3 separate regions of the Homo sapiens genome follow, and regions 2 and 3 are each linked to region 1. The links come from fine-mapping of genetic effects on gene expression. A gene starts in region 1. Each other region holds a variant in brackets. All regions are shown on one strand. Distances are from middle to middle.

Region 1 (10,410 bases):
TAAAGTTAGGAAAATGTCCTCCTGCCTTTGGCTGGCAAGCTCTGTGACTGCACAGGTCTGGGTTCCCAGATCCCATGCTTCAGGTCACCCCATGCTCCACTGGGCTTGGGCACCACCGGGCCCTCTGGTTACTAAACCATCAGTGAAAAATCAGGGAGAAAATTAACATCTGGCCATACCAAGTTCAGCGATTCACCCAAAAGGCTTCCTCCAGGCTCGGCGGGATGCTGTCTGTGCTGGAAGGGAACAGACGTCTGTGGGAAGAGCCTGCGACGGACTGGGTGGGCTCCAAAGGAGTTCTCATTACAACAGGGTGGAGAGGTCACTGTGGGACCTGGGTCCCTCAGTGATGCCGCGAGGGCCTCCAGTGTGTGCGGCGGCACGGAGACACACTGGTCTTTTGGGTTACCTGTGCCGGGGCAGGTGTGGGCCTGATGGAAGCAGCACAGCCCCAACAGGTCACAAGCTCTAAACTCCCCCTACACCTTTCATCACCAGGCGGACCCTGAAGCCCCTTTCCTGACTCCTAAGCCCTGTGGCGCCACCTACTGGAAGAGGCAGAAGCCACATCTACTGCAGGTCTGGCCAGGTCGCATTCATTCATTCACGCAGACATTTATTTGTTCAGCCTTGCATCGAGGCCCTGGACTGAGCAGCGGCCTGTACTAGGAAGCAGGGATCCCAAGATGAGCAGGGCCTCGAAATCTCCAGTCAGTATGCTCCTTGGATCCCTTTGATAGGTCTTACAGAAGAACCCAACTCAAGCAGTTTTATTTGAAGAACAAATTGAAGAGACCTAGGTCATTGCCAAGACTGAGAGATGGTCCCACGGGGCTAACGGCTCATCATTTCATTTACAAAGCACTGTGCCTGCAGCATCTACCTGTAAGAACAAGTCTCCCTTTACTATGAAGAAGAAATCTTTAAACAGTCTTAGGAGACTGCATTATCAATACTTCTCTCTCAACACCCCAGGTCCCTGAAGGGCATTAGCCTCTCGTGTGATCTATTTAAAATAGCTTTTCCTTATTCCATGTGTGTATGTATACACACACACACTTAAATACTGTTAGTGTGTATTCTATGGAAATAATGAAAAATTGACTCTTTTTAATATATTGTCATATTCTAAAACACTAAAAAGTGCCTGACCAATAGTAGGAATAATATGATGAACTCCAATAGCCCCTTTCCTCCAGTTTTCTCCATGCAGGATCAAGAAAAAGCAAAGCTATTGCCACAGCTTTCTTTAACCTGCTCAAGCTGATGTGCGAGCAATGTTGTTCTCTGACCATTTGTAAAGAAAGTTAACTGTGATCATTATTATTATTACCTTATTACAGTGATTCTTATTCTGCTGAATCGCTAAGTAGTTAAAAGAAAAGCACAGTGTGTCTTGCACTCCCCAAACACATGTTTCTCCCCTCTGCCTTGTCTCTAGCAGATAAGGGACATTCTGGTGTTTTATTTGTTCAATGGTTGACTATTAAGACACTCATTTGCTAGCTGGAGCCTGCAATAGAAAATCGGCCCAGAAAAGTGGGAGGCTGGCACAGGCCCAGAGCAGACAGGGCACCAGAGGCGAGGCAAGGCTTGAGTGTGCCACCCCAGCCTGAAACCCAGGGTCAGAAGCTGGTCCTTCAATGAACTTCCAGGCTGTTCCCAGGCACTGACCTCCAGTCTCCAGTTCGACCCTCAACACACACACACACACACACACACACACACACACACACACACTCACACACACTCACACATGCACACACTCCACGGAAAAGGTGAGGGAGCAAGGACTGGTGCATTCCACATCTCAGAGCATGTCGGGAAGAGAGGAATGCACAGCCCCCGCCACTGACAACTTTTTTGGTTCTCGACTCTTTGTTTCGTCACCATTACTGATCTTCTGAGGCAGTCCTAGACTCCTCTTCTGTCTCCTGAAACTCTAACCCCTATGATGGCTCACCCGCCCCCTTTAGTGATTAGCCACAGCAACCTCTTCCTTGTCAATATTCATTCTGTTCTAGGTCTGCCCTTCCCACCTCCACCACCCTCCTCCCCTCTCCTACCCCAACAACCTCGGCAATGCCAACCAACTAAAGAAGAGAAGATGGAGAGTAGAGGGGAGACAGGGATCTTGGTGCTCTTCCACCTGGGAACCGCATCTAGAAATGGAGGCAAAACTGCTCCCATGAATTATATAATCACTGCAGCTTCAAGGGAGAGAACTGGAATTCAGGTTGCCATAGCGTTTGCTGGCATGTTGCTGGAAAGGTAGAGCTCTCAGCCGCTGGCTCCCTTGCTCCCTTCCCCTCTACCTTTCTCAGGAACCTCTCTGGGGTTGGCACTCCTACTTTTAATGTCTGCTCCCAGCATACAGCAGGGAGATGCTGAGAGGCAAAGGGGCCAAAGAAAACAACCAGAGTAAGGAAATGGGTTCAGAAGGGGTTTATCCTGCACTAAGAGGAGACCTTGTAAACTAGTTAAGATTATCATCCTGTGAATAAGGTGAATAATCACTATTATTACCACAGTACATTGCCATTGACAGTGATACTTAGGGCAATACTACAGAGCTCTCCTCTTCAATGCTGCTTAGACTGAGGAGGTGGGTAAAGCACGCAGTCTCAGAACCTGGAGGGGAGTCATCTTGCATCCCCACTCTTCACAAATACCACCCTCTTTTGTGTCTCACTCCTTCCCTCCTAAACCATTCACTAGCCCATCAGCTACAGAAGGGAGAGGGGATCAGGTGAGGGATGGGGTCAACAGTAGAGAAATCCAAACATGGATACTGCCCTTGTGACCCCAAAGCTCTGGCTCACCCTAGAACCCATGACCCTTGACAAGATTCTTTCTTCCAAAGGAGGCCACAATCCCCAAGCTGCCACCCATGCTGGAAAGCAGAGAAGACTGGCCCCAAAATCGGTTTCAGGATAGATGGAGACCAGGCAGGCTGGATGGCAGCTTCTGGCTCTAAAGAGTGAAGGCCCTGTCCCCAAAAGGTGGAGCTGGGAGCAAACAGAGGGAAAAAGCTGGACAAAAAGACCTGGAGACAACTCCTTCCACCAGGCTGGTCTTCAGAGGATCACTGGGAAGAACCCAGGGAAGGAACAGAGACCAGCAGTGACAGATAGGCTTTCAGGGGAAGAGAAGAGGAAGAGTGCAAACAGGGAGGCTCTGGGAACTGGGAGAGAAAAGGGAGAGACTACACCCAAAGAGACAGAGCAGTGGCGAGAAGAAAGAGATGTCATGCCTGGAGGTTGCCAGAAAGCCCCGCTGGACCACCCTGTCTGCACCCCCCGTCCCCAAAACCTTAAATGCTAAGCAACGTCCAAGAAAACAACTTGTTAATATGGGGGGAGAGCGGTGAGGGAGAAAGTTTCCAGGAAGTAGGGAGTTACCTGACTGCCTTTCACCATCACAGGGGGAGCTGGTGACACTCGCGGCCAAGGATGGAGATGCTCGGAAAACACTGGGCAATAGTATGGAGCCGCGTGAGCCAGGCACACCCTTTCATGATCTCCTTCAAACACGAAACAGCAAAGCCCACACACCGCCCGGCTCCTCGCCGCTTCCATCCTCAGGTGCTAGCCCACATGTGGGTGCGAATGAGAACACACGCGGCGTGGGCGCGCTCGGGGTCAACAGCAGTGGAGAGGTGGGTGGGTGTAGGTGAGCGGCGGAGGAGGGAGGGAGAGAGGAAGAAGGGGACCTACAGAGGGGGAACCAGAGGGGCGCGCTGGGCTTCACATCTGCACCGCCGCCCCCACCCGCCACCTGGAGCGCGCCGCCCAGGGCAGGGGCGCCTGGACGAGAGTGGACGCCGGGCAGCGCGAGGGCGCCCCAGGGGCGGCCGTGGGCGCCGGGCTCTGCCGGCGCAGGGTGCGCGCGCGCGCGCTCCCAGCCGCGCCCCGAGCCGGGCGAGGGACCCCGGGCCTCTGGGCTCCGCGGCGCCGGCGCCCTCTGCCCCCCGCGCGGCTGGCCAGGCAGCCGGGCTCTCCAGGCGGACGCGAGAAAGCGAGGCGGCGGCAGCCACTTGGGGAACTTTTCCCCCCTCGCCTGGAATTTCACAGGAAACACATGCTCTGGAGAAGCTGGGGCCCGGAGGGGGAGGGGCGGGAATTTTCCGCTCCGTCTCGCGCGGCGGTTCGGGCCCCGGTCCCGCCGGGCTCCCGGGCGCTCCGACGAGGCGGAGGCGCCCCTCGCGGACGCGGCCCCGGGCCACTCCGCAGGGACCGGCCCCGGGGCCGCGGGGAGCGCGGGTAGGGCAGGAACCCGGTGGAAAAGGCAGGGAGCCCCGGCGAGGCGGCGGGGTCCAGCCTTACCTTGGTGGTTTTCCTCTGGAATGTACATCCTCGTATTCTCATTGACCATGGACCAAAAATGGTTTTAATAGGAGGAGCAGCCACGAAGAGGAAGAAATGTGAAAACACCCCCCGGCGGGTCTGGATTAATCCCTCCTCCGAGGCCGGCGGCTTTCGCGCAAGATTCGAGGAAGCCGTGGTCTGCAGCGTTTCTTCTTCCCCGCCGACGATTACCTGATTCCCATTATGGCATCAAACCCCAAAAACTGCTCCTTTCCACTACTGCCTCCTCGAGTGAAACTGTAACGCATCCTCAGTACATCCGGGCCCCTTCCAAGAACTGAGCACCGCACCTCCGGCGGCTACACCATTTGAAAAAATAAATCGGGAGAGGCAGGGCGAGAAGAGGCGGAGAGGAGGGGCGGGGGGCGCGCGGGGCCCGCCTGGGCCGGCAGGGGCCGAGGCGCCTCTGCCCACTCCCAGCGAGTCCTCCTGAGGCCCCTGCCCGGCTCTCTGCTGTCAAAGGGAGCCGGCAACTCCTGGGCGCGGAGGCAGGAAGAGCCGCCGCCGCCGCTCCGGGCCCGCCGCGCCGCGCCGAGCGCCGCTCTGGCAGGAGCTGTTTCTGCAGAGGCAGCGAGAGGGAGACACCGGGCGCGCGAGAGCGCCGCGCTCACTCCCCCCGGCCCAGCCCCGCCGCGCCCGCGCCCGCCCCTGCCCGCGCCGCCCGCCCGCCCGCCCGGCGCGCCGGAGGCAGACGCGCTGAACGCTTCCAGATGTGGCTGCGGCGGCGCGCAGGGAGCCGGGCGCACGGCGCGGGGCGCACGGCGGCGGACTGGAGCCCGAAGTCGGGCCCCCTCCCGGCGCCCGCGGCAGCGCCGCCCGAGCGAGCCCTCCGCCCGCATGACGTCAAAGGGAGCGGGCCCCGGCCGCCGGCGGGCGAGGGGCGGCGTGAGGAGCCCCCGGGGAGGCCGGGGCGCGCGGCGCACCCGGGCGCCAGCCGCGGTGGCCGCGGTGGCCGCGGCGCGGACACACCCCCTCGCGCCCCGCCGGCGGCGTCGCGCCCCCCGCGCCGGCCTGCAGCCCCCCGCCCGCGTTCTCTCCTCCGCTGCGGCGGCGCGTCCCTGCTGGGCCGGCCACGCCGGGAAGGCCTCTGTGAGCGGAATTCCAAGGAGGAGGAATACAATTTGCCCGACTACCAGAGTCTCGTTTCGGATCGGGCCACTGAACAAAACGGCAAGATGAGCCGTGATTCCGTGATTCTGTTTGATCAATTATAATCAGAGCGGTTGTAGAAGTGACAGATAGAGGAGGGGAGGGGAAGCGGGAGGGGCAGCGAGGCGGAGCCTGGTAGGCGAGGCAGCGGTGCCCAGATGTCTGAACAGATTCCTAGACCCAGGTTTAATAATTCCTTGGAGGCAGCCGAGCACGTGTTCTACTAGGATATCCTTACCTACTTCTCTTAATTATTTCTGCAACTCCGGCAGGAATCTATCCAGCACCTCTCCTTCCCGGAGAAGCAAACACTTCCCTCCATCACTCCCTGCAACCACAGCAAGTTCCACGGCACCCCCTGCAGGACCGGGCTCCCCTCCAGTGGGGCTTCGTGATCCCTTTCAGGGGGGCCTACAACTCCCTCTTGGGGAAAACCTCTACCTGCCTCCACATAAGACCTCCTCGCCTCCACATCCACCCTCATTCCCTGGGTGACCCTAACCATTCCCGTGGCTTTCAGCAGCTGTCTATATCAAATGTCTATCTCCAGCCCAGACCTCTCTCCTGAATTCCAGACTACAGCTGACTCCGTCTGATAGACATTTCAAGCCTAATACATCCAAACACTGGATTCCTGATCTCTTCAAAGCCTGCTCCTCCTCACACAGCCTTCCCCATCGCAGTCGATGACCATCCCATACTTCTAGTTGCTCAGTTCAAAATCCTGGAGTCACTCTTGACTCCTTTCTCTCATCATTCCACGTCTAGTCCATCAGGAGATCCTGTTGACCCTACCTTCAGGTGAATTCAGAACCTGACCACTTCTCATTTCCTGCACTGCCACCACCTGGGGCTGAACCAGCATCCTTCACCCAGGTTTCTCCTGTGGCTGATCCCCCTGGTCTACCTTCCCTCTCCCCTCTGGTATTTTCTCAATACAGCAGTCGGAGTAACCCATTTAAAACATCACATCCCAGCACTCCTCTGCTCAAAACCATCCATGGTTACCCATTTCACTTAGTAAAAGCCATGGTCCTTGTGGTGACCTACAGGAATGGCTGAGTACAAATCCCCTTACATCATCTCCTACTGCTGTCCCCCTCACTCGGGATACACTAGCCTCCTGGCTGGGCCCCAGACACTCCAGGAATGACCCCTCAACACACACGCACATTGTAAGGCCTTTGCTCTAGCTATTCCCACTGCCTGAAACACAAACTCCCTCGGCTTCTTCAAGGCTTTCCGCAAATCTCACCTGTTCAGTGAGGCTCACCAGGACCTCATCCTGATTCAGTACTGACAGACCCCCACAGCGCTCCCTATCTCCCCTTACTCTTACTGAAATCCTGTCTAACATACTATATAGTTTACTTATTCATTAACTTTATTGCTTATTGTCTGTATCCCCCCACTAAAATGTAACCCCCATGAAGGCAGGTGTCTCATCTATTTTGTTCACCAGTGCCTAGAGCAGTATCTGGCAGATAGTAAGTACATAATATGTATTGAATAAATGAGTGAGTGCCTGAGATACTTTCAGGAGTGTTGCAATTCCCCCTATGAAAATGCATCTGTCCGTCCCTTGGTACCTGAAACCTTACCACTCCTGTTTCCTTCCTTTGTCCAGTGGTTCTGGCCCCAGTGTAAAATGCAAGTGCCCCTGGGAGAAGTATTAAGCTGTTTCGGTCATCTTCATTCTAATGTTAATAGCGATCTCAATTTTGTTGGTTACAAGAGAAATCTGGCCTCTTTGCCATTCTGGTGTGTTCATACTCAATTTTCAACTTAATAGAGAAAATTAGAAATGACACAAATTCAAATATTTCGCATTTACTTTAGGATGCATTATAGGCCTGTGTTTCAGAGGCTGCTGTAGCTGATAATTTGTTTAAATGAATAGTAAAATTGGTTTGCATCCCCTTTACACACAAGTGCAGGAATAATAATAATAGCTAACACTACTGAGTGCTCTGTGCCAGGTACTGTGATAGGCCCTTTACAGCCTTTATCTTATTTAATCCTCACTGCGATCCAATAAGCTATGTGTTATCGTCATGATTATCCCCATTTTACAGATATGGAAACTGAGACTTCGAGACTTGAATTACAATGTCCAGGGTCACCCAGCTGAGTAAATGTGGAGCCTGGACTTAGCCCAGGCATATCTGACACCAAACTCAGTCTCTACTATTATCTTACTCATTCTTCTGAGGGGTGAAGTGTGGGTGAGCTGGTGGGGGCAGGGCTGCAGGGAGATGAACAGGGTGAAATGATTGCAAAATATGCTGCAGATAATTCACAAAGAGCCAAGTCACTGGGAACAGAGTGTATGTGTGTTAGGGGGTCACGTGCAGGATTTATAGCCCAGCTTTTCTAAAGGTAGGCACTGTATAAATCTAGCAAGTAAATATTACCTCCACGCTTCTTTAGTTTCATTTTTCACTTCTCTTTTCAGCTGTGAAATGTGTTCTTTCCTTTCCAGAAAAAGGTATTTCCTAAATATTTGGTCTTGCAGTATACGCCCATATCCCAGCTTTTAACTTTGGAACACAGCCCTGGGTGTGCTCTTTCGAGGTAACAAATTCTCAACATGACAAAAGGAGACCATTGTGAATTCCGATTTGGGGATTTGGGAGGTGGTGGGAGCAGAGGAGGGAGTCTGCATTTCTCTGTCATTGAATGATTTGATTCTCCAGCTAAAGAATCTCCCATAGGTCTTCATGTGTGCCCTCTTTCTGCATAGTATTTTGCTTATATTTGCATGAGCCTTTTTCTCTCCTCTTCCTTACTACATTTTAGGTGTCTTCAAGAAGAGAACTGTGTTTATTCTTTGTGCATAACATAATGCCTTGTACATATGGACACTCAATTTGTGTTGAGTGCATGATTCACTCTGGAAAAGATTTTTAAATGTGACCACAGATATTTTCTTTGGAAGCAATTAAGAGTGCACTGAATTTGTTAATTACAGTATATTTGTAAGAGTGAAAACCTGGAAATGAACTAAATATTCAACAAAAATGTTGGTTAAATAATAACACTGAGAGATTATTCTAAGTGCCTCACATACATAAAGTCATTTGCTCCTCCAAACAACCCTGTGAAGGAATTGCTTTTATCCACATTTTACCGGTGAGGAAACCAAAGCACAGAAACGTTTACTCACTTGCCCATGTTTCACAGCCAGTTGATGTTGAAAGACCTGGGATTTGAACCCTAGCAGTCTTCAGAGCCTACGCTCTTAACCACCGCATAGATGAACTAGAGTGCATTCATACAGTTAAATTCTACATAGACATGAACAATATTAAGGAAGAATATTAGTAACGTGGAAAAAGATGATTTACATTAAAAGAAAAACAAGTCACGAAAATATTACAGGCACTATGATTTCATTTTCCTTTTAAAGTCAGGTTTATATTTGAACTAGGGAAAAGACTAAATAGGGTTCACACCAAAATGTTGACAGTATCCTCAATCTGGGGCAGGTGGGGAAAAAAAGTGTTGACAGTAGCTGTCTTTGGGAGGTGGGATTACACGTAAATGTTTCTTCTTCTTCTTCTTCTTCCCTGTCTGGTCCAAGGCTTGAAAAGCCAGGTTGCCAAGCAGGCTCTTCCTCTTCCCTTAGCACACACACACCTCTTGACACAGAGCCCTCCCCCCACTGCCTAGCCAGGGACAACACTGCTAATCAATCTCTTCAGAATAAGTCTCCCATCAAGTCTGCAAGGTGTCCCTTCTATTTCTCTCCCTCTGCCCACCACAACAGCCACTCAGCACTAAATGCTGCCACCCACCTGCAAAAATTACCTGTGCAGTGTTTCCAGCCCAAATGCATTGCATTGTCCTCATTGCAATCCAAGCTGCCTGGTTGAAGTGTCAGCCACTCTGTGTTGGTCGTAGAGAGCTAGGAGCACCAAGATGATGGGTAAATCTTAACAGTGACCTTTTGGGAAGATGTTTCATCCTTAATTTCTAATCCACATAATTGCCTGTATATAAGGGTGGGCATTTCAAACCAGGTAAAGTTGATTAGCAAGCCAGAGTAGGAAGAGTGGAGTCAGAAAGCCCAGCTTAAATGTGCCTTCTGACACCTTACCTTCTTTATCTCCACATAGGGCCACGCACAACCGTTCCTTCTCAAAGGCCAGCGATGGGAACATCAGTGTGGTGGTTTTGCATTAGGTCAACTTCACTAAGCTGGAACCTATTTCCCAGAATTGCCTTCCTTATGTGGTTCTGCGTTAAGGTTGTCCACAACAGGTATTTGTGGAGCCTCTGGAAGGTGGACATGAAGCAGCAGCATGCGCTCATTGTCACCGAATTGCTGGCTCACCCTGATGGTGGAGCCCACAGCTCCTCCAGCTCCTGCTAGATCTCCTCCTTCAGCTACTCTGAGGCCTGGGCAAAGTACGTGTCCAGCTCTGTAGTCAAGATTCCAGCTTTATGTTTCATGGTCGAGATCGGAAGTGGTGAAAGGCAAACAAGGGTTTTATTTGTCCTTGTGGGCTCCACTTTGGCCTCACTCTCTCCCACATCATGTCCTGCTTTCCTCCGGCCTTTTGGCATTACGGCAACTTCACACCCATCCTCAGATGCAGAGGCAGCAGCCTTCTAGAGATTCTTCACCAGCTTCCACAACTGGATAAGGTCTAATCTCTGCAATCAATCCCTTCCTCCACATCACTCACGGTGGTACCACTTCCCTGACCAAAGCTGGCTGATGCAACAGTGTAGTGCTCCCACCTGTGACCAGGTTACTTGTTTAGATATTTTTATGGGTAAATAGTGCCTGGCACATAGTTGCCCTCAATATATATGTTTGTTGAATTCATACTAATTATCATCATTTAATATGCCTGGTGAGTATCAGGTGCTATGATAGGCACTTTAA
Region 2 (10,410 bases), 190 kb before region 1:
AGCTTCAAGGCTGAAGACTAAAAAGTAGAGCTATTATTCTGGGTGGCTTGTCGTCATCTCCACTGAGAGCAGAACAAACCCCTAAAGCATGTGGAATTTCCATTACAGACAAAAAAGAATTATTGGACAGTGAGGGTCATTAGACAATGGAATGAGTGCCCAAGGCTACAGCACTGGCATCACCACAATGATCAAGTCAGGAGGGCCGGCTGGGGTTGGGAGGTCACTGGATTAGAGATGGATGACCAGGGCTCCATTGGCTCAGTGGGTATTTAACGCATGGCCTTGGAGGAGGTGCCAGTCTCTCTCCACTTCAGCTACAGCGTAGGCCATCACCCAGTTTGTCCCCCTGAGTAGTTGCTATGAAGATCAAATGAGATCATGGATGTAAAAGTGTTCAGTGAACCATAAATTGCTACCCAGATATCAGCTGTCATCAACCACACCCACAATCCTGACTAAAGGTCTCGGGATGGAGAGAGGGTCTTGGCCTGTGCCCTTCAGGATTCGGTGCTGTGCGTGCAACCTGGGAGTTTCTGCCCTGTTAATAAGCTGAGTGCTCCCAACTCCAGGTGCTGGGAGGTGAACGGCCCAGGGTTGGAAATGTCTCTTCCTGGAGTGCTCAGTGCTGATGCTGGCCAGGTGGAGCACAGAAGACAAATGAACTCCGCAGATACTGACTGGGTGGGCTCTGTGAGGCACTGTCCATGCCTCAGGGAGATGGACTGATGCATCCTTGTCCTTGAGGAATCTAAAGAGAAGGCAAGGCAGGCCGGGTGCAGTGGCTCACGCCTGTAATCCCAGCACTCTGGGAGGCCGAGGCAGGTGGATCACGAGGTCAGGAGATCGAGACCATCCTGGCTAACACGGTGAAACCCCGTCTCCACTGAAAATACAAAAAATTAGCCAGGCGTGGTGGCGGGCGCCTGTAGTCTCAGCTACTCGAGAGACTGAGGCAGGAGAATGGTGTGAACCCGGGAGGCGGAGCTTGAGGCAGGAGAATCGCGTGAACCTGGGAGGCGGCGCTTGCAATGAGCCAGGATCGCGCCACTGCACTCCAGCCTGGGCAACAGAGTGAGACTCCATCTCAAAAAAAAAAAAAAAAGAGAGAAGGCAAGGCAGATGTCACTGATTCGGAGCCACCGGCCGAGTGAGCCCTAGACTAGATTTTAGGCCTGGCCTCACCTTGGACAGGTCACGTGAGTCCCCTGAATCCCAGGTGCAATAAACAGGGAACAATCATCACCTCTGTGTGCCCACTTCACAGAGCTAATGTGAGGGTTGGGGGTGACGAACTGCAGAGGAGTACCAGCAGGAATAACAGCAAACATTTACCTGGCATCTGCTCTGTGCCACACACTGTTTAAACCTTTTACAATCAGAGGGCAACAAACTTTTTCTGTAAAGGGTCAGGTAGTAAATATTTTAGGATTTTATTTTAGGATTTGTAGGACAGACAGTCTCTGTCACAATTACTCATCTCTGCTGCTGCTGCAGAGAAACAGTCACAGACAAGACATAAATGGATACGTGTGGCTATGTTCTGATACCATTTTATTTACAAAAGCAGATGGCAGGCCGGATGTGGCCTGTTCGCCAGTTCACCAACTCCTGCTTTGCATACTTCCCCTCACCATGACCCAGTGAAGTATACGTCACTTCATACTCACTTTACAGATGAGAAAAGTGAGGCCCAGTCACATGAATTAACTTGCTCAATGTCAGAGAGCTGTTAAGTGGCAGGCTTGGGATTTGAAGAAAGGCAGTCTGGCCCCAGAGTCCTTACCTCCTTACCTCTCTACTGACAGCCTATTCAGAACGCTAGAAATGAAACGTGACAACCACTACATCAAACTGAGGTGCCAGTCAAGCATGGCCATAATAATAGCCAACATTTCCTGAGGGCCTATTTTACGCCAGGCACGGTGCCAGGTGCTTCCCAGATGCAACCTTCATAGCAGCTCTGTGAGAACAGGACTATCGTGATGCTCATTGTACAGAGGGAGAAACAGAGGCTGAGGGTTACCATAACTTGCTCAAGGTCCCAGAGTCAGCAAGTATTAGAGCCATAATAGAACCTAAGTCCGTCACCGCCAAGGTTGGCATTGCCCCTCCACACCGTGAGGCCCTCTTGCCAGGAGGCAACATCCGCTCCTGTCTTTCGGTTACTTCTTTCCAGAGTAAAGGTAGACACTGTTCTCTTCGAGAGTTTATACCACTGCGGCTTTGAACACGGGAGCGTGATGCACTGCCTTGGGGATGATCACCCCCAGGAAGACAGGAAGGCTCACTTCTCTGCCCCAGTTGCAGCCATCGCCTCTCCAGCACCGACTCCTGTCTGTCCTGCACACCACTCAACACAGAGCATCTGCCAGTTTCTACAGCACTGCAGGCAGAACACTCACTTGCAGGCTGCTAACTAAAAATACTGGAAAATGGAGCCCAGTGAGGCGGCCTCGGTTCCTTCACAATGGAAAGGGATGATCCCGTGGGTCCTTGGCCCGGTGCAGAGAAATGTTCCCTGGAAGGACAGCACGGAGATTCCCAGCATCCAACTCTGGTTCCTGGACTCATCTCCTCCTCCCCTTAACTGGTCAGGAGCTGAGCATGAAAGAGACACTGCTCACTGGTTATATTTATAGAGCAGAGTCCAGCAGCCAGGAAGTGGACATTATGGGAATGTACAGTGTAAACACAGCATAGGAGAGGAGATTCTTAATTACTTTGCAATGGACATTTGAGCCAAACCTTCCTAGGTTAGCTAAGTTGTGTGTGGTGTTACTGTTTCTCCAATGAACACACACACACATATATACATAGAACTTAATTTTAAGTTAAAAAAAGTTTGAGTGGAAAAAGATGCCCACGATTCAGCTCAATTTTAGAAATAACTAATTATATTTGAGAATGGGAGAGAAGAGTTCTTTCTGGCTTACAAAGGTTCTCAGCCACCTGTCCCCCCTCTGCAGTGGCCACAGCACCTTTTCTCCTTTCCATGTACTGTTTCTTGCTTTGTTCCTAAAATTCAAGTTGTCTTCCCCTCCCTTGGAGAATAAAGAGAAAGGAGCAGGTGAGAACGAGACTAAGTGGAGGTGACAGAGAATGAAAAGAGGAAGCACAAAGAGGCTCGGCAAGAATCCAGAATTTTAGAAGGAAAAAGAACAAGTGATTAAAGACCTAGAAGGTTTCAGCAAAAGTTTCCTTTTGTCCCTTTGCAAAATCTTGCCATCGTCCATAGGGAACTGAGGAGGGACCAGGAAGTCTAGATTTCGCCGTGGCTGCCCACCAGGAAGGTCAGGAAGCCTGAAACTCAGCCATGGGGACAAAGTGCCCACCAGGCGGATGAAGTCTGCAGTCACATTGCCGTGTTAAACTGGGACACTCCATCACAAAATGGCATGGTCGATTTCTCCCAGCCTAGAAAGCTGTGAGGAATTTCCCCACGAAGGTTATATCTCATTTTGTCACATGCAAATTTAGCTAATTAAAACCCACCCGGAAAAGGAGTTCAAGGACAAGAGAGCATCAGACTTATAGGAAAAACAGACCCTGCGGCATTGACAGGGCAGAGAGGGTGCAGGAAATCAAAGAGTGACCTCACAGGAAAAGGCGAGGGTGCTCCCAACTTCCATGCAATGCACTGTGACCATATAGAGAGAGCAAGGTTATAACAGGCCATCCCCGCTGCCCAAAGAAAATGTCCTGCCTATTTTTAAGACAAGAATAAAGGATAATCAGGGTGAAAACTGGAAAAAAATTCCAGAATGAATTGAAGGAAGCTACAGATTTGCAGGAGTCAAAGGGAAGAAGGAAGGAAGCTGATTTAGCCTTTCTTACTTTATAGTCTTAGCTTAAGTTTTTCAAAATTTTAATTCTACCTATCGGGGAGTTATTGCAGGCATGTGTAGGCATGTGTGTGCATGGGGGAAGAACGGCCTGGAAGGGGATGGAGAAGTGGGGAGACAGGGATGCAGCCGCTATGCATGAAGCGTCAGCCCAGGGAACTGGCCTCCTTGAAGACAGGAGATTACAGTTCTTGGATGGGTCATGACATCACCCCTCACCCCCAACCTTGGCCAATGTGCCAGCAGGTTTCTCCATGCCCAGGCAGCGGTGTGGACCAGGAGAAAAGCTTCCTTGCTGGGACCTATAAAAGAACAGGTTAGGACAGAGCGTAGCAGTTAAGAGCACACACACACCATGCTGGCTGGGTTCTCACCACAGCCCCCACACTCGC[G/A]ACTCACGGGACCTGACGACCTACCCTCGGTGTGCCTCAGTTTTCTCATCTATACAAAGGGGACAACAACGGTATGAATTGCACAGAGTCGTCATGGGTCCAGCAGTTACAGGAGTGCCTATTACACAGGAAGCACTGTGTAAGTGTTAGCTGCTATTACTCAGAAACACGTTTCAGGCAGGGAGGCATGGCTCAGTGGGATAAGGAAAGCCTGAGATTCAGGATCCTGTTCACTCCGGGAGCCACCATCTAAAAGGCCTTACTACAGCCTCCTATTCAGCAGATTACTTTCCTGCTCAGAATTCAGCCTCGGCCCCCGATCTACAGAATTGGGTCCACTCTCATCTGCTGGGCAGCAAGGTCTCCAGCATCTGCATCCCCTGCCCAGCTCTGCCGAGCCTGCCCCACTGCAGTTGTCCTGCCACAGCACTGACTGTGGGCACTGTTCACCTTAACTGTCCCCACGCCATGCCCTGTGCTGTTTGCTGCCGGCACCATCTTCTCTTGCTCTGTTTGCTTGCCCTTCCTCCTGCCACCCTAACGGCAGGTGCTTTGTGGTGACTCTGAACAGGGGGCCTGGTTCTATGTCCATCCCACCATGGGTGTACCACGCACAAAGTTAGGGTACTGAGGTTTCACTCCAACTAAGCAACAACATGCAGGTAGTGCTCACTGTGTGCAGGGCCTTCTAGAGCTCCACGGTCCCTTATTGGAAACCCTTGGGGCCAAATGCATTTCAGAATTCAGAATGTGTCAGGTAAAGTCATTTGCATATCTACTGTATGTAATAGCACAGCAGGGTGAAGGGCCCCAGAAGCCAACGTATTTCTGCAGTAAATCATATGAATATTCACTCTAAGCAGGTTAAATAAGACTGCAACTACCCTTGTGTCAGTTTAGGACAACTCTGCCCCAGATGAATTCAGGAAAGGCCAGATTTTGCTGTCAAAGGGATAATAAATGAACTTTCACTTTTCAGAGACTTGGGGATTTCAGAATTACAGAGAAATGGCTATGGATCTGTACTAGGTGTTCTGGGGTCATAAAGATAAATATTTTTACACAAAGGAAATAGTATAACTGCTGCCTTTGGGAGGAACAAGGAAAGGAGCCCAAGCATGGGCACATTCTAGACCACCCGCTCTGAGCCTCAGTTGCCTGGTCTGTGAAATGGGATGACACTCTCCCGGCAAGGAGAGGTTTATTATAAAGCACCTGAAACACACTGCTCAGAGATCTCATGTGTGTTTGCTTCTCCCCTTTACTGTTCAGTCAATGAAAATTTAAACCCGGGTGGCTAAGCAAGCATGCATGTGCTGAAGGGTTCTCAATGGAGAATGGAGCTGAGAATGGCTCAGCTAAGAAGCTTCCTGGAGGGAGGACTCAGCAAATCCTTATGCTTCCATTTTGCTGTCTTCAACTAGGAGGAACAGAATGCCATTAATTGAACCACCTTCTTAAAGTATGCAAATCCCAAAGAATAATACAATTCCCTTTGCTCTCACGATCAGCGCGGCCCCTCCACATGGCCATGCTGTTTCTGTCTTGCCTGCTCCTCTTTTGCACTTTCCTAGACACTTTCTTTTTGAAAGACATCAAGCACACAAGTACGTTCAGGCAATCAGTTCAGCAGCAGAATTGCATTTACAGCCCCAGAGAAAAACCCTGTGGGAATGTCAGGGTGAGCAGACAAGAAGGCCTTGGCTTCGATGGGTCTGGGTTTACAGTTTACTCTGTTTGTTTTTTGTTGATAAAAGTAAAGTCTTCCCCTGCCCAGTATCCATTGTGAAGCATTCCCTTTTACATAAATGAACCTAATCCCCCTGTTTATTAACATTAAACTTGATATTTACAGCCCAAGTGCTTTATCAGCATTAACCAATAATCCTCAGTGAATTCTTGCAGGGGGAGTCCACGTGAGGCACTGAACTGCTCAACAAGAGCCTTGGCACAGCCCAAAGCAGGTGATGGCTCTGCTCTAGGAAGGAGGAGGTGCTTATAGGACTGACCTGTGGCTTCACCCCTCATGCCCTACACGGCAGACTTCTGCATTCCCTTCTCTCTAAACACAGAGGGAAGTGTGTGCAGCCTGAAAGGTAGTGGGCACAACATGGTTAACAGGGGAATCCTGAACTACTGCTGGGACCTGGGGGGCAGTTTCCGGAGGAGATGACTGTATTTAGTGTTTTGCATAGGTAATGATGGAAGGATGAGGTCTGTGTTCACCTGGCACCTTCCCTTAGGACCTTCCCTGCCTAGTGATAAATACAGGCTCAGGCCCTGAGTGCTTCTGTTCAAAAGCGGAGCTGCAGCCATGAGTCAACACCGCATTCCTGGGCTAGTGGTAATGAGCACAGCAGGCAGCTGACGTCCCACAACGCATGCTAGGGGAGCCGAAGGCCCCTTCACAATGAAATTAATGAAGGCTGTAGCTGAAAGACTCTTGGAGCAAGTGGCTAACTACAGACTCAGGAGGGCAAAGGCCCTGAAACAGATAGATGAATCTGAGCCAAGAGCAGCAGGGGATGGCCCCACAGAGTGGGCAGGATGCTTAAGGGAGCTCTCCAGAGATGCTTCTCTCTGGTAACAGTTCACCCAGGTCCTCAGTGGAGAGAAACTGGAATTCCACATCATAACTCAGTTCTATATCCATAGTTGTACATAGTTGGCCTGAAGTTTAATTGAAAACAGCACCATTTCCCTTATGTGCACCTAGTCATTCTCCAGTTGTCTTTATTATCTTAATAAAACCTCAAGTTAAAAGGCTCCTACCAGTACTGTTATAAAGGAATATTTGTATTGACTGAACCTCATCTGACAATTGCAGCGAGGAATTCAGTGCCCAGCATTGGCAAAACCAGATAAACAGTGCCCTTGTGAGTACTGCTCTAACAAAGCAATTTATAACTGGACTACACATTGCACTTGAGCACCTGGCCTGTTCCAGGGACAGACTCATGAGGTAGCTACTATTATCCCATTATATAGGTAAAGAAACTAAGGCTCAACAGAGTTAAGTTGCCCCACAGCCAGGGATTAGTCAAACCCAGATCTGACTCCAAAATGCCATTTCCACTATGTCATTTCATACCTTCTCATCATCCCCCCATGTGGTCTTCTTGGATGGTGATCGCACTGATGGCAGCAGTCACACGTGCTATCATGCATGTTTGATCAGTGGCTACCAGCAGACCATGAGCTGAGGGTTTAGGACTATGAGCCACCAGGCCCCTGACTAACCTCAGGCACAGCCCAGCTTTGGTTTCAAGTTATGGTTCTCTCTCAGGTGGCATCTCCACTTTCCTATGATTCAATTCATCAGCAATTACTTACCAAATGATTCTATGGGCCTCTCTGCACTAGACTTCATCCCTGCTTCCAGGTACTCACACACAACCTGGTTAGAGAGGTAAGATCATGACATATCAAATCGTCAGAGCTCAATTACCATGGTGTATGGATGAGTGCCACACTATGAGGAAATGGAGGGCATACACTTATTAGTAATAACCCATATAAGTAAGCTCCTTACTCCTTCTTATGCACCCACATAGCACTTAACAGCTTACAAAGACAGATCTCATTCTATCCAAAAGTTCAAACAAAACACCAAACCACACAGCAGATAAAAGACCCAAATGACACAGCCAGCTCTACCAATTATAAACCCTATGATCGTGGGTAAGTCACTTCACCTCTCAGACCCTCAGTTCTTTCCTCTTAAATTAAGAATAACCACACTTGCCCCTGCTAACCACACAGGGTTCTTTTGAGGATCAAATGAAATCACGCATATGAAAGCACTTTGAAACTACAAGCCACACAGCTGTACCATGGTAGATTATTGGACAAGCCAAATATTATTGCTCTCATTTACAAACAAGGAAACTGAGGCTGGAAGCAGACCCGGGACCAGGGCCCAAGTCTTTAGGTTCTTTGGCCAGAGGTCTGTCCTCTCCATGACGATGCTTCACTAACTAGGAGCAGGTAGGAAGTAAAGAATCCGGTTGGGCCTCAATAATCTAGGAAGACTCCCTGAAGTAGAGGCCAACAGGCCACTGACATAGTTGATTAAGAATAAATTTTTTTGAGTCATCATTTAAGAAACAGTAGGTTTCATACAAAATCCAAATTTTTGCCTTGAAAAGTCAGAAGAGCTCATAACAGCGGGCACAGACTTCCTCAGTGATGACCGTCTGCTGTGGCCGCCACCTTTAGGAAACACCTGTCATTTCAGTTCATCACAGTTACCCTGGTCCCCCATTGTTCCTCCAGCACGGAGGCCAAGTGTCAGTAGCTAGTTTTCATTATCCTTGCATTGCTGTCTCTGTGTAGCAATGGAAGTGAGTATGTTTCTGCGGGAAAGTGAAGACTCCTCCTGCACCTGTGTACCTTTCTTGCTTATTTCAGCAAGATTTAAGTTTGCATTGTCTGACCTGAAGGACAAAGAGACTCCCAGGAGATAGGGTGGCAGGAATGTAGCAAGAGCAAAGTATGGCTGGGAAAACTGAGCGTGGAGGTGGGAGGCCAGGTCGGAGGATGCGGCCTGACTGGGAGGAGGGGCTATGCAGAGGGCACAAGGACAATGGAGGACTGGGAAGACTTTACAGCTAAGAAATGAGGCTGCAAGATGGAGCAGGGAGCTTGAATGATGATGGCGATGGCAGGGACAAGGGCACCATGCATGGTAGTGCCAGCCCAGGGAGCAGGAGAAATGGAAATTCTGATGGGCAAGAACCAGGAGAAACGCCTTGCGAACTCATTCATTCAAAAATTTACTGCGGACCCACTGCGTGCCAGGCACACTGAGTTCTCTGGGAATACAGCAGGGGATCAAACATAACAAAAAATCTCCACTTTATGGCAGATGCAGCCACATTGGGAGGGATCTTTCCACAAAATTCCCCCATGAATGATTAAGGATAGCTGCTTCTGAGCCACGGAGGACAATAGGCAGAGCTGACTGTGACAGGGAGAGGGGATAGTCAAGGCGTGAGGTTAAAAATGCCCCACCTGCCAGTGCTCAGCTGGTGAAGGCACAAAGCAGCTGGAACTACCTGCCCCATCTGTCTTCGGAAGACCCAGAGGAACTTGAGCATGAGAATACACATAGCTGGTCCTGCCACTCCCCCACCTGCTTGGCCAGGCTGCACACGTTTTGCAATTGATCCCATCCCACACGCGTGCTCTCCTCTGCTTGCCACACTCTGGGACAAGGGGGGAGGCATAAAAAACATGGCATGATAAAAAGATCTGGAATTGGGATGACTTGAACTCCAGCTCTTTCACGTGACCTTGGGCAAATTACAGGATCCTTGGCTTCTGGTTTCTCATCTTTAAAAATGGGGACAATATGATTTGCCTCAGAGAATTTCTCTAAGGCTGCCATGACATCATCTATGTGACAATACACAGCCAGGCCAGCGCGGGGACATAGCGGGGCTGCAGTCAATGCTGGTCTTCTCCATGCGTGGGAGGATGGAGGCTTCTTGAACCACTCGCAAGTCAGAAATAAAGCTGCCAGGAGCCTCGCAAGGAAATGCTTGCCCTCTTCCCACCCCCCTCACCTCGTACTGGTTATGTAAACCTTGGCTCACTCTGGCATTATTTGAGAAACATGTGAAATCCCCTCTGTGGTAACTCCATTTGGGTTAATACTTCCATCCCCAGTAAATTCCTGTTAAGATGCAAGCATAATCCCTGGCGAGATCCCACCCTGGCAGAAGCACCCACTGAGACGGTGTAGAGAGGGGACTCTCACCCTGGAAATTCAGGCCCTGAGGGAGTTGGGTGAGCACTGCTGAGGGGAGCTCTGGGCTGCCAGAGGTCAGGGGGTGGGGGAGAGGGCAAGGAAAATGGCCAAAAGAGAGGTGGAAGAGGAGGCCACGCGTGCCCACCTAACCATGTGCTAATGACCAAGCATGGGTGGAGAAGGCACCTTGTCCCTTCAGTCAATACCCATTAGCATCCGCCATGCAGCAAGGTCACCAATATCAGGCACTCTGGGGGATGGTGTGCCCAACGCTGACGCTGGCCTCCCAGATCTTATGAAATGTCTCACCCCTCCAGGAGTCCTTCCAGCCAGCTTGTGGCTCAGGCCGCTGTCACCATAACCCTCAGTGCAGGCCCTGCCCCATGCCTGGAGCCCTATCAGTGGCTTTTGTTGGATTCTA
Region 3 (10,410 bases), 320 kb before region 1:
AGGCCTCGTGTGTTCTTCAGAAATCATGGAGAAGCAGAAGGAGCTCCAGGAGCCAGGCGGACTCACTTGGCATCCTTTCCCCTCCTCATTAGCTGTGTGAACTTGGGCCAGCCACAACATTCTTGTGAACCTCACTTTACTCAGCTGTGAAACGGGGATAATACGCCCCACCTTTTAAGTGAGCAGTGCAGACTGGAGGAGATAAAGAACATATAACGTGTGCTCAATGCTCAGTACCTGTGGCTGTGGTGAAGGAGGTATGGGGTGTTTCTTTAGTATTTCCTGGCTGTCTTCCCACAATCGAAATTGCAACGCGAACCATGCTGACAGCAAATAAAACAAAACCCTAAATCCCTCGACGTCAGGGGCCCAGCACACCTGTGATAGCCGCTGTAAGGCTAGGCTGGTCGGTGAGTTCCTTGAGGGCTGTGAGTAGGTCAGGGGTGCAGCGCTGTTGCAGCTGGGTGCATGTGGTGTTCGCCATGTTTGTCCTTGCACTGCATGAAAGCCCCTGAATCCTGGGCTTCGGCATGACAACATCACCTCTTAGGGCTCTGCTGAGAGTCCTCCCAGCTTGTGCTCACAAACAGAACGGGGGCCGGGAGAGGAGGGCATTGAGGCCACACACAGCCCTGCTCAGTGAAACCCACAGCTCATGCTGGTGTTTAAATGCTAACTATGGGCTCCCAGGACAGCCCATTTAATTTCTCCTTTTGTTGGCCGTGTCCCAGCCCTTCCTTCTCCTCCAGGCCCCTCCTCAAATACCACGCCAGCTGGGGAGCTGCCCCTCCCCTAATTATTACCCTGGGGCTGCCAAGATGCTGGCTCCACCCCCGCAGAGGATGGCGGCAGAGCACAGAACGTGACAACAGCAGCAGCAGGTGGCCCCAGCAGAAAAGGCCTGATCATGGTCCCTGCGATTCCTACCATTCCTGGCCAGCTAGTGGGCGTAGCGAGCATGCTTTGTGTGGCGCAGGGGTTCTGCATTCTTAGGGCACCACCATCTTTCACCCCATCTCTGTGAAGCAGGGAGGAGGTGGGGGGTTTTCTGTGCAGCAATGTATGCCTAAGACACACTCTTCTAGTCAAGAATGTAGGATTGCTTAGCCTAGAGCAGCAGAATCCCAGTTAAGGTTTCATGTTGGGGTTCTTGGGGTGGTCTTGCCCTCCACATAGCTCCCCAAGGGAAAGGGCTCCTGTGAGCAGAAATATACTGCAGCTCACAGCCCCCTAGCCTATTACAGAAAGGTAGGACAATCCTTGGGAAGCAAGCAAAGTTTGCCGCCAGCAGCTCCCAGAACCTTCCTTGCACATTTATTCGTCCACCTGTCCGCCTAAGCTGTGCATCCATCCGAACACCCACTCATCTTTGCTGAGAACCTAATGAGTGAGGGCTCTGTGCCACATGCTGGGGATACAAAGGTGGGTAAGACACCATCTCGGTGCTATTTGCCCCCCTCCTCAAGCACAGGTACTCAGGGGGCATCATCCAGTTGTAGTTTATGAGGACTCTGCAATAAGAAGAAGAATGGGCGCTTGTCCTCACATACAGAGGCTCAGAGTTTAGTGGCTTGCCCAAAGCCACACAGGAGGTCACAAAGCCATGACTCCGACCTGGACTTCTGATCTAGAGTGTCCTCCATGGCAGTGTGTTCTCTAATGGCAAAAACAGACCACTTCCCCAAGCAATGGCTGAGACTGAAGGGGCGACTCTGGCCTTGAGCATGGCTGCTCCTTCTACTGAGCAACCATGTCATTTCACTCAATGTTTCTCAAACACTTGTTAGTGCCAGGCCCTGTGCTGGGCACCAGCCAAACTGCCTGGGGCCCTGCTTGTCCTCTTCCCCTGTTTTGATTTGCTTGCTTCGTTGTTTGGTTCTTCTTGGACTGTTTCTAGGTTGGTTTAGTCTTTGATACTCCTCCCATGTGAGAAGGTCCTGACTGGTTTCATCCCAGGGAAGGAAGACAGCTCCCAATCAAGTGGTGTGGTCAACGTCTTCCACTTTGCCATGCAGAGAGCCTGAGTTACCAGTGAGCTCTGGGCAGAACCAGTGGGCTAAAGACTCTCCATGGATTATATCAACACTGTCAGAATTGTCAAGTTAGGCACTGTCTCTAACTCAATATGTTAAGATACATATACTAAGACAAGGACTTGATTTAACAACAGCAGCAATAATAAGCATCCTTAGGGTATGATGTATAAAGAAAAGAGACAGCGGCCTGGAAAACCCACAGGTGGCACTTCAATACTAACTATAAATGGGAAGTTGAAATACCTCGGAAAAGAAACATCTGATCATCAAGGAAGAGCTTTGTAAATCATAGAATGGTATCAGTGAGTGTAACGTTGGGGACCTCCAGGCTAACTCCTTCACTTGGTGTTCAGAGAGCTAAGACTTAAGAGTACTCCCAGTGCCACAGGAGCCGAAGGTGGGCCAGACCCAGGAAACGCATCTCCTGAGCCTCATGCCAGGCCTGTTCTGCTGAGCCACGACACCGGGCATCATTCACTGGGCATCATTCTCATCAGAACCCCAAGCAAGCCCTGCTTGTACCTTGCAGATCTCAGCCCAACCTGTCCCACTGAGGCAGCACAGGGAAGATGCCAGCCCTTCTTCTGCAGAGTCTCAACCATCCTGTCTCCTTGGCAGCCGCTCAGCACATGCACATCTGCTGCCCAGAGAGAAGGGCAGTGTGTGAGAAGTGCGCCCTGCACTGGGTTCATGTTCCAACCCTGACTTTCCCCAGCCTGCTGACCTTGAAAGAATCACTAATCCTGTCTCATTTTGTTCCCCATCTGAAAACTGGAGCAATAATCTTATCTCTGAAAGCTTTTGTAAAGATGAAGACGTAGACTGTCACTGGAAGCACCTTATTATTGATATTGCCCAGTTCCCAGACAACACTGCCAAGCTCTGAGGCTGTCCTGCCACAGATCCCGATGTGAAGCCACCCTGCTCTCCAATGAACCCAACTTCCAGTGCATGCATGCCTTTCAGAGTGAGGAAACGCGCTTCTGCCTCATTGTTTGCTTTCCCGGCTGTGCTGGTTGGATGCAGCAGGGATAATGTTGACTGGAGATGGTTTATTTGTCACCTAATGCTAATGTGTCATCCCTGCAGCAGTGGTTATCACCTACTATTAGTATTCTTTGTCTGCTGAGTGAATGGCTAAGGGGCCCTGAGCTGGAGTGGACAGAAGAGGGGAAGACAAACTGTGGAGTTAGGAGCTGCTATGTGGGTGTAAGCCAGCAGGGAGCCCTGACCGCTCTACCAATGCCTCAGAGTAGGAAAACCACCCTGGCTGAGTTCCCACCCTGAGGCCTGGCCCACGGAAGGCCAATGTGGCGTGGGCTGTGATATGCTATTGAGACAGGCAGAGGGTTGGTGGCCTTGAATGCCATGGCTGGAATATTGAGTTACGAACAATAACACCCAGTCCCCAGTCATGGGAAAATAAGCAGGGCTTAGGGAGGCCCCAATGGGAGCCACAAATAACACCAAAGCAGAAAATGGCAAAAACAATTGCCACCACAATAAAAAACCACATAGAACCAAAACTTATGGCCAAATTTCCCACATACTGCAATCAACAGTCCATTACTAAAAAATTCCAGCATACCAGGGAAGAATGACAGGACCAGAGGAAGGCAGAGAGATGAATCAGAAAAGGAAGAGAAGAAATAATGAGCACTGGTAAGTAAACGTGCACGTGGGAAGACTACTAGTCTACTGTCTACTAGTTGTGGGGCGGAAGAGGGTGCTGGGTTCTAGCACCAGAGGCCCAGCCCTGGCTAGCGGAGTTGTGATGTGGGCCAGGTCCCTTGACCACTGTGGCAACCAAGTTTCCTCATCTGTAAAATAAGGACTGGACCCAGTGATCTGTAAGGCCCCCGCTGGCTCTAGAATTCTAAGAAAAAGGAATTCGGAATATCCCTTGAAGGCTGGCATAACAAAGTTCGTCATGCACAAGAGAGGAAAAATGGGACTGAGCTTACTGATACTGGAGAAAAGCATGAGGTTTGACTTGCAGATCACCTTCAAGCCTAAGAAGGGTGGCAAATATCTTTTTTTAATCGCCACTAATGGAAAGGCAAAAGGAAAATGGGCTTGAAGAGGGTTTGTTAAGGCAGCTGGAGCAAACTCATAAATACGAATATAATTCTGTTGTTTCCCTTCTGAAATACTTTCAATGGTTCCCATATCTATCACTTAAAATCCAATCTCTCCCCTGGCTCACAAGCCCTACAGCTGCGGCCCCTGAATCCACGCCAAACTCCTGCCCCATTGCTCTGCCCAGTTCAGAGCGCTCCATGCTGGCCTCTGCATGCTGCCTGGGACACCCTCTCTCTAGCTTGTCCCAGGGCAGGCTCCTCAGGGCAGTCGGGCCTCAGTGTCACCTCAGGAGACCTCTGCCGACCACTCACTTTGCAGCCTCCCCCAAAACTCCCCATTGTATATTCATGTTCCTGACATTTTCTTTACTTATTATCTGTCTCCCCCATGAGAATGTAGGTGCCAGGAGAGGAGAAACCCCGTTCGTGTTATTCAGTGCTCAGGGTCTAGAACGGAGCCTGCCACATGGAGAAGCTCAGTGAGCATTTGCTGAATGAATGAGGGGTGACAAGTAAGTAATATAAGTAGAAAACATATGGATGTTTTCCCCAAGGAAGGCTGAAAGGCACTCAAATGAAGGGTTGGGGAAAATCATGGATCCTCCTTCGCTGAAAGTCTCTTTAAAGAACAACGAGATGCTTTCCTGTCAGTAACGATCCAGTTCCTTGTCACTTCTCCCGCCACAGACCAGACCAGGAATGTGCCGAGTGCCCCAGGCTGGCTGCCCACTTTGTGACATACAGAAGCCAACACCGTGCATTCCTTTGGATGGTGAGTCAAGGAGCTTCTCGGCACCGGACTTGCTGGCCTCTCCTGGGGCTGCCCCCGCATCCATCTGCTACCATTGCTAACGAGCCCCTGGCCTCTTAGGCCTGCCCAGGGAGCTGCCATTGCACTACTGGCATGTCCCCGGACCCCTGAGGCTGACAGGACTTCTCACCAGCCAGCCAGGCCAGATGGACAGGCCTC[A/G]AGGAACATGCCAGGGGGCAGGCTAACGGATGGATGGGCCTTGGAAAGGGAGGCGATAGGGATTGACCCTCAAACTATGTTTTAATCTGCTGAGAACATTAAAGTGATCCATTGCTTTATTTTTTCAGGTTGCCAAAAAAAAAAAGGGAATGCGGATTTATTTATTATTATTATTTTGGTAATGTGGAGGATGAAAGGCAGGCAGGCAGGATTAGGTGGGTTGTGGGAAAATGTAATATTTTCCAGTACTACATGTGTCCATCTCTCCTGGATTAACTGGAGATCAAAGAAGCCCCTGCTGGAGATCTGCCTGTGTCATAAGGTGCAACGAGTCAACCTGATGTTGCTATAGGAACCAGATTTCTCCCCAGCGTCATGGCAACAGACTCCGGTGTGTTAGGCGCACAGTCTGCTCACACTGACATAGTGAGCTCAGGAAGAGAGCAGCAAGGGGTGGGGAGATGTGGGGGAGGCTGTACACAGTTCTCTTCCTAAACCAATCAGCTGAAAGCTCAAATAAATGAGCCTTACTTTGAATGGAGATGACGACGGGAATTGTGCATCTTTGTTGGAATAACTGCAGGACACTGAGGACATCATCAAACTTGGGGGTCCCATCTGTGGTTGTCTACATCATATACTATCTGTTCTTATAACGAGGGGTTTCACTGAGGAAGACTCCTTCCAAGGTCCAGTAAAACAACAAATGATAAACAACCAACCAACAAAACAAAACCCAAAAGAGCTAATTATGGGCCATTCTGAAGTCCATGAGCAATATTCTATTTCCTTCATGAATTTCTAAGTGACAATGAACTTCCCCACCATCTAGGAACATCTAAGAGGGGAAGGAAGAAAATTGCAGCATCCGCTCCCCTTAGAGGCTTTTAATACTCAACATCAATTTCTTTGGCCTGGTGACAGAGCCCATCATCCAGGTAGAAATGTGGATCTGGAAAGAACGGCCTCCAGTCTGTGATTTAATTCCACAAGTTTCAACACTATTGTCCAAGAGTCCGAGATTAAAAAAAAAAAAAAAAAAAAAAGCCATATGTCATTTAGTATGTGCTTGCTTCCTGTGTGCCATATTTTTTTTCTAGGTCTCTGTACCATCGGGCTTAAGAATATCTCCTTATTTCTTGCTCTTGACCTAAGGAGATGGTTCTCAAAGTGTGATTCCTGGAGCACCAGTGGTAGCAGCAGCAACATCACTTGAGAGCTTGTCAGAAATGCAAATTCTCAGGTCCTCACCTGAGACCTGCGGAATCAGAAACTATGGAGGTGGGGTCCAGCACTGTTTTAACAAGCTCCTCAGGTGCTTGTGTTGTAAAGCAAAGGTTGAAAACCAATGGCCAAAGGAGTCTATGCCCCTTCAACGCCTTCTTTCTGCCCACCTGGGCCTCCAGTCAGTCAATGATGGGACTGCAGAAATCCTACGGCTGGGTCTTTTGATGCCTTCTATTCCAACTTCTGCCCGATGAAGCCTCTCATCTTCACTCCTCAAGGATGCTTTGTGTCCTGGTGAGCTCACCATTTTGCAAGATGAACACCTGACTACACCTTACATGGCTCTAAAACCTGCCTCTCCCTTTCACTCCTACCCAAAATCTAGTTCTGCTTCCTGAAGCTACTCAGAATTAGTCTGATTTTTCAGCCTCATGTAGCCCTTTATGTATGTGAAATCAGCTATTCCATTGCCCCTAAATATCCTTGTTTCCAGGTAAAACATCCCTAGATCCTTCTGCAGTTCCTTATGTAACAGTTTCCAGATGGTTCCCCTGGGGTCCCTCACTGAATGTGACCAACATGAGAGGAGGACACACCTTGCTTCTCTTTAAACTTGGAGAGCAGACGAGCCTGACTGTACAGAGCATAGGGACTGCCCCCTCCCCACCTGGACACCGCAGACTGCCACCAAGGCAACCCAGGTCAGCTTCGACTACAATCACAACACCAAGCCTGGGGCAGTGAAATCCCCCCGATCCTTTTCATAAATGCAATAGTTAAGTTAGTCCTCTTTCATTCCTATTTTTTGAGGCTGAGCCCATAACTTAGCATTTCTAATACTAAATTTATCTCATTAGTTTTGGCCCAGAATTTTTATTAAGATACTATTGAATTTATTTTTATACTGTACAAAAATGTGATACTATGCATATTTATTTTCCTTTTAAACTTTATTCAAATTCATATGCTGTCCATATATTTTATATCCTGCTATTAATGTGAAATGAGCATTTCAACTTGTTGGCTTCAAAAACATAAGTTTTATTAGCTCATCATATGAGTTATAACACATTTAAACATTCCCCTTTGATGTTAGGTTCTCTCCTCTTTTCTTGCTGTTATACATGAGCTGAAATGAACATCATTATACGTAAATATAAAACTTTGTCTAATTATTTTTCAGCCCAAATTCCTAGATGGAAAATTAGTGGTAATAGGGTATGAACATTTCAAAGACCTTGATATGCATTGCTAAATTGTTTCCAGAAAGGTTATAACTTTTTTCTATTTCTATCATAGTATATGAGAGCCCATTTTACCACACCTATTGCTAATGTATTTTTTTAATCTGTGTTACTTTATTAAGTGAAAAATAGCATCTTCTTTTAATTTATGTTTCTATTTTACTAGTGAGGCTGATTTTAAAAATCAAAATGTATTTACCAGTTTGTAGTTTATATTTTGTGAATAAATCTGTTCACGTCCTTTGCCAAATTTTCTAATGGGGATGTGTTTCTTTAATTGATTTCTAAGATCTCCTTATACAGCAGCAATATTGACCCCGTGTCTACCACTTTAATAAACATTTTCCCAGTGTGTGTTTGCCTTCCAAAATTTTCTGTAATTTTTCTGTGGGTAAAAGTTTTCTATTTTTATGAGTTGAATCTCAGTCTTTTCTTTTGTGCCTTCCTCCATTACTTTCATGTTTATAAAGTCTTCCATAATTCTGGAGGCAGTTAAATAGTCTTTTTCCCCCAAGTCTTATGGTTTATTTTCTTTCATTTAACTATTTGAATCCACCTGTAATTTGCTTTGTCTAAATGTATAAGATAGGTATGTAGGCTGGGCGTGGTGGCTCACACCTGTAATCCCAGCACTTTGGGAGGCCAAGGCGGGAGGATCACCTGAGGTCAGGAGTTCAAGACCAGCCTGGCCAACATGGTGAAACCCTGACTCTACTAAAAATACAAAAAAAAAATTAGCTGGTTGCAGTGGCATGTGCCTGTAATCCCAGCAACTCGGAAGGCTGAGGTAGGAGAATCGCTTGAACCCGGGAGGTGGGGGATGCAGTGAGCCAAGATTGCGCCACTGCACTCCAGCCTGGGCAACAGAGCGAGACTTTGTCTCAAAAAAAAAAAAAGGTATGTAAAGTTATTTTATTTCCAAATACTTACCAATCCAGTCCCTGCCCTCGCCCACCTTCCTTAAAACTTCTTTGCTTCCTTTACCATATAGTAGGTTCTCATGAGCCACAGATGCACTGCATATTAGTTTCATTTTTTAGAGAAGCACCTTAAAGTTATTTTTACCATACATAAATTGAGGGGAATTTTAAACTGGTTTTGTAAGGGAAAACAGATTTTGTTTTCTAGTACACAGTATATGCTACTTTGGAGACACATAGGAGGATGCAAATTTTCTTCTGCCTTTGACTGATGCATTATTTTATGGCTCTGGCCTTCTACTTTTAAAATGGTGCTGTTGAATACAAGGTTATTTTGGACACATTTATTTTTAAAAATTTTATTTTATGCCCCAACAAATATCATTACTAGAGGCTGTTTCCTGGTTGTTTGTTTCACACAGCTCTGTCCGTGGATTCCTTTACCCGCACCATTCTGTTCATCTGTAGGAATGCCGTCTCTTATCCTTTCCTCACTGTGCTCATGACATATCTTTCTTGGTAAATTTGGTCTGGTTATTTTTCCAGATAAATTCTAGAATTATTTTTCTAAGCACTCTCCTTTCCACTCCCCACCAAAACAACAAACAATGCCCAAACCAAAATATAAACAAAGAAAATACACCCTGGGCTGTTGATTAGGGTTCTTCTTAAACTCATGAATTAATTTGGAAAGATTTGGCATCTTCAGATATTCAATCTTTCCTATAGAAATACGACATGCTTTCATTTATTCTAACTGTTCTTCTATATCTTTTAGTTAAATTTAATTTTGTCATACAGTCCCATGTGTTTAGAATATTTTCCCTAAGCACATTTTAAAAGTTTTGTAATTGTTGTAAATAGGAATTCTTTTCCATTTTATTTTCCAGATGGTCATTTTTGGTACATAAAAACTACTGATTATTAAACTATTTATGTCATATCCAGTCACGTTTCTGGGGCCCTTTTATTAATGCTAACTATTTTCAGTTAGATTTTCTAGGACTATAATCACACCATTTGCAAATATTGATAATTTTCTCTCTTCCTTTCCACGTCCTGCTTTGTTGTAGCCCCTCGACCTTTCACAACGCTGACTGGCAATGGTTCTAGTGCACGTTCCTTTCTTGTTCTTGATTTTAAAGGAAATGCTTCCAGGACATCATCACTAAATGTTTGCTGTTAGTTTGAGATACATTCTTTATCATATTAGCTGTCATTCTATTCCTAGTATTTTAAGAGTTGTATTTAAAATGGATATTGAGTTTTATTGCATGCTGCATTTTTTAGTTGACTTACCAATGTGATATATTATAGTATTAAATTTCCCAGCATTGAATAGTCCTTGAATTCATTGGCTGTGTCTTACCTAACTGTGAATCCAATGGATTCAATTTTATTTCATTTTTCTTTTTTCATCTGTGTACATATATAAGATTATTCTAAGACTTTTTTGGTGACATCTTTGTCAAGATAATGCTAATTTTATTAAATAAATTTTTAACTTTAATGTTCTTCTGTATTTTGAAAAAAATTATCTAAAGTTGAAATTTATATTTTTCTAGAAAGTTACAATTAAGATTTTCAAATTTCTTAGCATACCACTATGAATAGCATTCATTCTCTTATGCTATTATGTTTCCTTATTAATTTTTGCTCTTTTTTATTTCTAAATTTCCAGAGGTAAATTAATTAAATTTTGTATTTTATAGCACCAGCTGCTTTATATTGTAAATCTATTCTGATACTGTTTCCTAATTAATTAATTAAACTTTTAGCCTTTTTGCAACACTTTGTTTTAGTGTCTCCTGTACAGAATATGGATACATTTTCTGTTTTAACCAACATCTGTAAGTCTTATACTTTTAATAATAAGAGTGTTTAACCCACTTACATATTTTAGCATAGTTAAACGTTCAACCCTACTTCTGT

What was found. PIP is the estimated chance that this variant, and not a neighbour inherited with it, causes the effect.
Region 2: its variant is fine-mapped to the expression of CACNA1C in cerebellum (GTEx, PIP above 0.99).
Region 3: its variant is fine-mapped to the expression of CACNA1C in cerebellum (GTEx, PIP above 0.99). The same link has a PIP of 0.9 or more in cerebellar hemisphere.

Annotation. Positions count from the first base shown.
Region 1 is chr12:2,047,527-2,057,936 of GRCh38, reverse strand. It overlaps CACNA1C (calcium voltage-gated channel subunit alpha1 C), which reads right to left and starts at 4,950. Exons shown (of 47, transcript NM_000719.7): 1 at 4,326-4,950. The coding sequence starts at 4,374. It overlaps CACNA1C-IT2 (CACNA1C intronic transcript 2), which reads right to left and starts at 9,585. Exons shown (of 2, transcript NR_046768.1): 1 at 9,327-9,585; 2 at 8,474-8,803. RefSeq lists an enhancer at 7,852-8,353.
Region 2 is chr12:2,240,468-2,250,877 of GRCh38, reverse strand. All of the region lies in intron 3 of CACNA1C (calcium voltage-gated channel subunit alpha1 C), which reads right to left. Among named protein-coding and RNA genes, the nearest start is that of CACNA1C-AS4, 22 kb to the right of the region's middle. The variant G/A (reference allele first, on the strand shown) is at 4,238.
Region 3 is chr12:2,367,448-2,377,857 of GRCh38, reverse strand. All of the region lies in intron 3 of CACNA1C (calcium voltage-gated channel subunit alpha1 C), which reads right to left. Among named protein-coding and RNA genes, the nearest start is that of CACNA1C-IT3, 100 kb to the right of the region's middle. RefSeq lists enhancers at 1-535, 536-1,139. The variant A/G (reference allele first, on the strand shown) is at 5,088.